Linked DNA regions of Homo sapiens: region 1 is reported to be linked to region 2. Evidence: microRNA targets listed by miRTarBase, many of them from high-throughput screens and not tested one by one. Region 2 holds a microRNA gene; the other region holds the end of a gene's coding sequence.

The links. Region 2 holds the annotated microRNA hsa-miR-151a-5p (UCGAGGAGCUCACAGUCUAGU, at 2,130-2,150, opposite strand). A microRNA usually pairs through its seed, bases 2 to 8, with sites in the 3' UTR of a target mRNA and lowers its output. Matches are read on the target gene's strand: a 7mer-m8 pairs with bases 2 to 8, a 7mer-A1 pairs with bases 2 to 7 and ends in A, and an 8mer does both.
Region 1: the mRNA of CCT5 is a reported target of hsa-miR-151a-5p. The part of its 3' UTR that is shown has no 7-base or 8-base seed match.

The regions. Positions count from the first base shown.
Region 1 is chr5:10,264,208-10,267,742 of GRCh38, reverse strand. CCT5 (chaperonin containing TCP1 subunit 5) reads right to left here. Exons shown (of 11, transcript NM_012073.5): 11 at 1,354-3,087. The coding sequence ends at 2,960. Among named protein-coding and RNA genes, the nearest start is that of CCT5, 16 kb to the right of the region's middle.
Region 2 is chr8:140,730,494-140,733,493 of GRCh38, forward strand. MIR151A (microRNA 151a) reads right to left here and starts at 2,160; the gene lies at 2,071-2,160. All of the region lies in intron 25 of PTK2 (protein tyrosine kinase 2), which reads right to left.

The DNA.
Region 1 (3,535 bases), not on the chromosome of region 2:
GCAGTGGTGTGACCATGGCTCACTGCACCCTCAACCTCCTGGGCTCAAAAGGATCTTCCCACTTCAGCCTCCCAAGTAGCTGGGACCATATAAGCATGCCATCAGGCCCAACTAACTTATTTTTGGTAGAGACAGGGTGTATGTTGCCCAGGCTGGTCTCTGACTCCTGGGCTAGAGCGACTCCTCTTGCCTCAGCCTCCCAAAGTGCTGGGATTACAGGTGCGAGCCACTGCACCTGGCCAAAAAGATGATTTTCTTTTTGAAAGTGTATGGTGCCACTACCTGACTCACACTAAGGTGTGGTTTTAATGGTCACTGCTTTTGCACCATCAGTGCAAAAGTCAACACAGTGAAAAGGGCAGTAACTTCAGTGTAGGAAAATACATTTGACTCATAGGCCCCTTGGAAAGACCCAGGACCCCGAGGGATCCATGGAGCAGACTTTGAAAACCAGTTTTAATGTACATAAACCATTTAGAGCAGTGATAGGGCACACACATTTATATTTTTACTACCTTGTCGTGTTTTCCCCACTTTTCCTGCCCTTCAACACTTTCTCGGCCATTTGCCTTTGGTCCCCACTTTTCTGGTGCTTTTAGATGACCCCATTCTGCCAAGACTGCCTGCAAGGAACACCTAGGTTGGAGAAACTTCTCCATGCTTACAAATTACTGATTAGTCAGTTACTACCGTGTCACCTTCCTCTGGCCACACCCCCCAACCCTCAATCTGTTGGAGCTGTTTCACCTAGAGAAAGAAAATGAGAGTCAAGAAATTCAGTCCAATGTAACAGAGAGATGGGCCTCTTAGCCCTCCCTGTGACATTTGTGCCTCACAGCGGCTGCTTGCAGAGTTGACCCTCATCTGAATTCAACCAACCTCAGGTTGAGAACATTCAGAGAAAAAAATTGCATCTGTACTGAACATGTAGATTTTTTCTTGTCATTACTCCCTAAATACAGTATGACACTTACATATCATTTATATTAGATATTATGAATAATAGAGATGATTTAAAGTATACAGGAGGATGTATGTTATATGCAAATACCACGATTTTTATCAGGGACTTGAGCGTCCATGAAATCTGGCACCTACAGGACATCCTGGAACTGCCCCCACATAGAAATTGAGTAGGCTGAAATTAAAAACAGGACATTTAACAAACCTCCAATGAATCTAGCAGGTGTAGAAATCGGGAACCAGCAGTAATACATGGGGACTTACATGGGAATCTAGCCTTTGGGTCAAGCACCCTAAGTTGCTTTTGCTCCACATGGGGAAGGAGAGGGTGTGGCCAAAGTACCAGCAAAATAAAACTTGAGTGATCTGGAACGTGAAAAATAAAAGACATCACGTGGAAGAGGTTTATTACAAATAAATGAAACAAAAATCAAAGGCTTGTGAAACATCTCTAAGTCTTCCTGTTCATTGACCAGTTTCTCAATCACAAAAAACAGGAACGTCTGTGAGGTTCAATTTTGGAAAGGGGGATTGGTTTAGTGGCTCTTCTGATACAACCACAGACCCCTCGGATAAGACTGTGGTCCAAAGAAGGCTGCTGTATGTTCTCTGTAGGCTAGACTCAGTCCTTGTAAATAAACTCAGTTTAAAGCTTTCAATACTCAACTGCATAGTTCCATATAAACATGAAAATTAGGAAGATTGCTATTAGCACACATTCCTAAATCCACAGGAGTTATTTAGCAAAACATCCAATGCATGAATGTAGAGAAAACACAATGACCCAAAAGTTAAGACTGGTGAATCTCCAGGTTCACATGAGACGGTAACCCAAATTCATCACTTAACCAAATTTAGACAAGAGTCACCATTTCCTAATTCTAGGAAATCTGACTAGTTAAGGTGGCATAACTAGTGATAAAGTTCATCATGAGCTTTATCATCACAATGCTAAGAAACATTATTTTAGAAAATCTAGAGAATCATTAACAAGCAAATAACAGAGTAGGGGATGAGCTGGGCCACTCTGGGGTCAGACTGCCTGGGATTGACCTGGCCCTACTACTTGCTGGTGGTGAGATGCTGGCCAATTATGAGTACTCACCTGTAAGATGTGAGCAGTAAGAAAGTGTATCTGCCTCACTGGGTTGTCAGAACAGACAATCCCGGTAGAGTTCTCGGAGCGTCTTGGCCCATCACTGTTAGCTAGTTAATACTTTAGTAAGTACAATTAATTTCAGTCACTCTATCTGAACATGGTAACTGCAAGATTTCTCCCTTATTTCCTGTAATTTACTTTAACCTCCACTTCACTGTGTCCCTCTGATAGGGAAACAAGTGGGTTCTGAACTGCCCTAAGCCTGTGCTGGTGGCCAGCTCTGCACATGCTGGTCCTGATTCTGTGTATGAGCTGTGTTCAGGGTGGGGCCGGGGCCAGAGGAAAGCAAAGGCTCACATGGGTCTCCATCAGCCCTAAACAACACGCCAGGTTAGGCTGTGAGCAACCTAGTAACAGCACTTAAGGCATCCCATAATTCTGTGGTGGACCCTCTACAATCAAATGGCCCACCCATTTAGATAGGAAGAGGATCAAGCCCATATTCCTCTCAATATGAAAGTGCATCTTGAGAGCTCCTGTTTAAGCTGTTAAAATAGTCCCTACAGCTTATTTTGAGAAAAAAAAATCCACCCAAACCCCTTCAATTAAGGCAGCATTTAATTACTGTTACAATAAACGTTTCTTAAACCCGAAGAGAAGATAAAGGTTGTTTAAACAGATTCTTTTAATACAATGAATACAAAAGCAGTTGAGATGGTACCCCCACGATTACACAGCTTTGAACAAGTGAAACTATGGTTACCAAACAGCTATTTTTATTATAGCATCTACAGTGTCTGGAAAAGGATGTAACAATAAATAACTGTAGATGCATCACGAGACATCCATTTACTTAATCACAGAAGTGGATCTTGCTACATAGTTTTCTCAATGTCTTCATTCTTCAGATTCTCCAGGCTTACGAATGTCATCAATCTTCAAAATCATTCTAACCATTTGTGTTGCAAGAGATATCTGTTGCTTTTTGCCAATCAAGGTTTCTATGACATGCTGTTGCTTCATATCTGAAAAATACAAGGACACTGATTATCCTAAAATAGCATACAATAAACTATCAATAACCAACTCTTTCTGATTTAGGGAATCACAGTAAGACTTAAGAAATACAAACTCCTGGAAGCCAAGCAGGAAGCCACTAATTTCAGTTATATTTCATTTTCAGATGAATGTAATTTCATTACTTCCAAGGACACTCTGGAACTCGCACCTGGTAAAGAGAGCTGTTGGGAGGGCACTGTCTTCAATGACTAGCTACAGGGTGACATTTTTCAGGAACATCTTATCCCACAAAGTATCCATACCCTAACTTAGGAAATCTAAAGTAAGTCCATCTGACCACAGCTGAAATGTAAGATATTTCCAAGAAAGATCTAGAAATGCTAATTTTTTTTTTGGAGACAGGTGTCACCCAGGCTGGAATACAACAGTGCGATCTCAGCTCACTGGAACCTC
Region 2 (3,000 bases):
CCCTTGGAGGGTGAACAGTGATTAGAAAGGGGCATGTGGAAGATTTCTGGGGTGCTGGTAGTATTTTCATTTTGGTTGCTGGTGACAGACTGTATCCAACTGGTGGAAATCCAGTAAGCTGTCACTTCTTGGTGTGTTTATTAAACATCAATAAAAAGTTTTAAAATATACAAAAATCATAACACAAAATTTTAAAGTGATAATTGTGTTTACTGCCCTAATTTGCCTAAAATATATTTAAGAATTTTAACATTAACCTAAAATATTTTTCTAATATGAGATAAAGCTGATGTTCTTTTTTAAAATAGTGGTACCAACACCTTAGTCAAGAAGAGTACTGTTGGGACATATTATTTTTGAACATACCTGCAAAAAGGCAAATAATAAAGCTGTTTATTATGGTTTCCCTGTCATAGTACCTAACAAAGAATTAACTGAAGTAACCAGGAATTAAATTAAACCCCCCCCCCCCTTTTTTTTTTGAGACAAAGTCTCACTCTTGTCTCCCGGGCTGGAGTGCAATGGCGCAATACCGGCTCACTGCAACCTCTGCCTCCCCAGGTTCAAGCGACTCTCTTGCCTCAGCCTCTTGAATACCTGGGATTACAGGTGCCTGCCACCACGCCGGGCTAATTTTTGTATTTTTAGTAGAGACGGGGTTTCACCATGTTGGCCAGGTTTGTCTCGAGCTCCTGACCTCAGGTGATCCACCTGCCTCGGCCTCCCAAACTGCTGGGATTACAGGCTTGAGCCACTGCGCCCGGCTAAATGATTTTTCACTCAAAAAATATTTGGTGCGCTCTTATAACCTGACAGTCATAAAGCACAAAAATGCTAGAGTACGCATTATAAGAAAATTTCACTGTTGATCAATTGAAAGTATTCCTATTGAGGAATTTTTTATACTTGATAATAGGCCACTGGCAGGTTAATCTCATTCTACTTCTCAATGAATTCATACCTATGAATAAGTAAACAGGATGTAGGAAGGACAGGTTCCTTGAGTCACAGACATCACCTCATCAAAGTAGGACCAAGGTGATTTTCCTATGAGTTTGCCCAACATGTTCCATACCAAAAATCACTTCTCAACTAATATAGTCAAAAACAAATATACAAGGCTGGGCATGGTGGCTCATGCCTGTAATCTCAGTACTTTGAAAGGCCAAGGTGGGTGGATTGCTTGAGCTCAGGAGTTTGAGACCAGCCTGGGCAACATGGCAAAACCCCATCTCTACCAAAAATACAAAAAATTAGCTGGGTGTGGTGGTGTGGTGTGCATGCCTGTAGTCCCAGCTACTCAGGAGGCTAAGGTGGGAGAATCACTTGAGCATGGGAGGTGGAGGTTGCAGGCAGCAGAGATGGTGCCACCGCACTCTAGCCTGGGCAACAGAGGAGACCCCGCCTCAACAAAATAAAATACACACGCATACACTCCAGTTAAAGATGAGGGGAATCCCACAGTAATTTGAGTCTACTTGCAAATATTCTTTCAAGGTAGGGAAGGAGAATTCTTTCGAGGTCAAGAAGAAGAATGGGATTTGGGAAACATTTTTAACTACCATAATTTTAACGACCAAAGGGCTATCCAAACTTATTATTTCTTTGTTAAAATCTTGGAAATAATAAAAATTTTGAAAAAAATTAATAACCTATTTAGTTATTGTGATACACTGTTATATGCAAATGTCCAAGTAAGCAATTATATTATATAGTGACATTTTATAATATAAAATGGTGGCCTATTTGGTAGCCTAATTGTATATGTTCAAAACGCAAAGTTAAACACCATTTCTAAAACAGAACAATGCAGAATGAATGAATGCTCAACTACCTGTGCTAGTAGTATATAAGAAGATATCCATAAATTATACTACAGGTACCTATTTAAAGTAATTATATGTAGTTCTAAAAATATGTATTGGATACTTTTTGGAGATAATTTACCTCAGTGGAGCATTCCTTAGTATTAAGAATCACTCATATGTTCTAAGCCTTGAATTCAGTGCCTGGGTGACTCTTCCTGTATCTAGCTAGCTAGGCTACTGGCCTGGAGGTTTGGGCAACACCGAGGTGAGTATGACCATCCCTGTCCTCAAGGAGCTTCAGTCTAGTAGGGGATGAGACATACTAGACTGTGAGCTCCTCGAGGGCAGGAAAAGTGTTTTAGTCATCTTTGCCCCAGTGACTAGCACCAGGCTCAGCTACTGTAGGTGCTCAACAGTGTTTATCGAACTGAATTGAACACGGGTTGCAGCCATCTATAGCAGCATAGGGTAAGCCTGACAAGAAGAACAAAGAGCTTTGGAGACTCAGAGGGTGAAGGCTAGTCAGCTGTGAAGTCACAGAAGACCCAGTGCGTGAAAGAAGCCGAGAAAGATGGGTAAGATCTCCCCAAATGAAGAAGGAGGCATTCTGGGCTGACAGGAGGGTTAGTTTAGCTACTGTGTGTGAAAGGGATGAGAAGACAATCTCAGGCCATAATGAAATGAGGCCTAAATGTTACTGTGGAAGCCTTTACCCAAACATAAAAGGTGACAAAACCCCACTGAAAGTTGTTTTGACCAGGGGAGTTATTTTTCCAGTGACATTTCAGGAAGATTGACTAAGCTGGTCATGCCAGACAGATGGGAAAAGAGCGTGGGATGGAGGGTGGGGGGCAGGCACAAGGAGTGAAGCATGACTCCAAGATGGTGCCGAAGATAAAGGCACTATTCCAACCTGGAGGAAGTGAGGAGGAAGGGCTGGCATAGAAGAGAATGTAACAGCTTGCTTTCTGGATAAACATGATGCCCAGCCAGCAATTTAAAATGTAGGTTTGGGACTTGAGAAAAGGGCAGGACCAGAACTATAGACAGACAGAGGTAAGCAGCAAAGCCATGTGAATGGGTCAGACATCCTGGGAAGAGTAATGAGAGAAAATGGGAGAAAATAAGAGGCTGAAAACAGAAATTTGGTTAATATTCATGGTAAAGGTGGAGAGATGGCAAGTCAATGAGG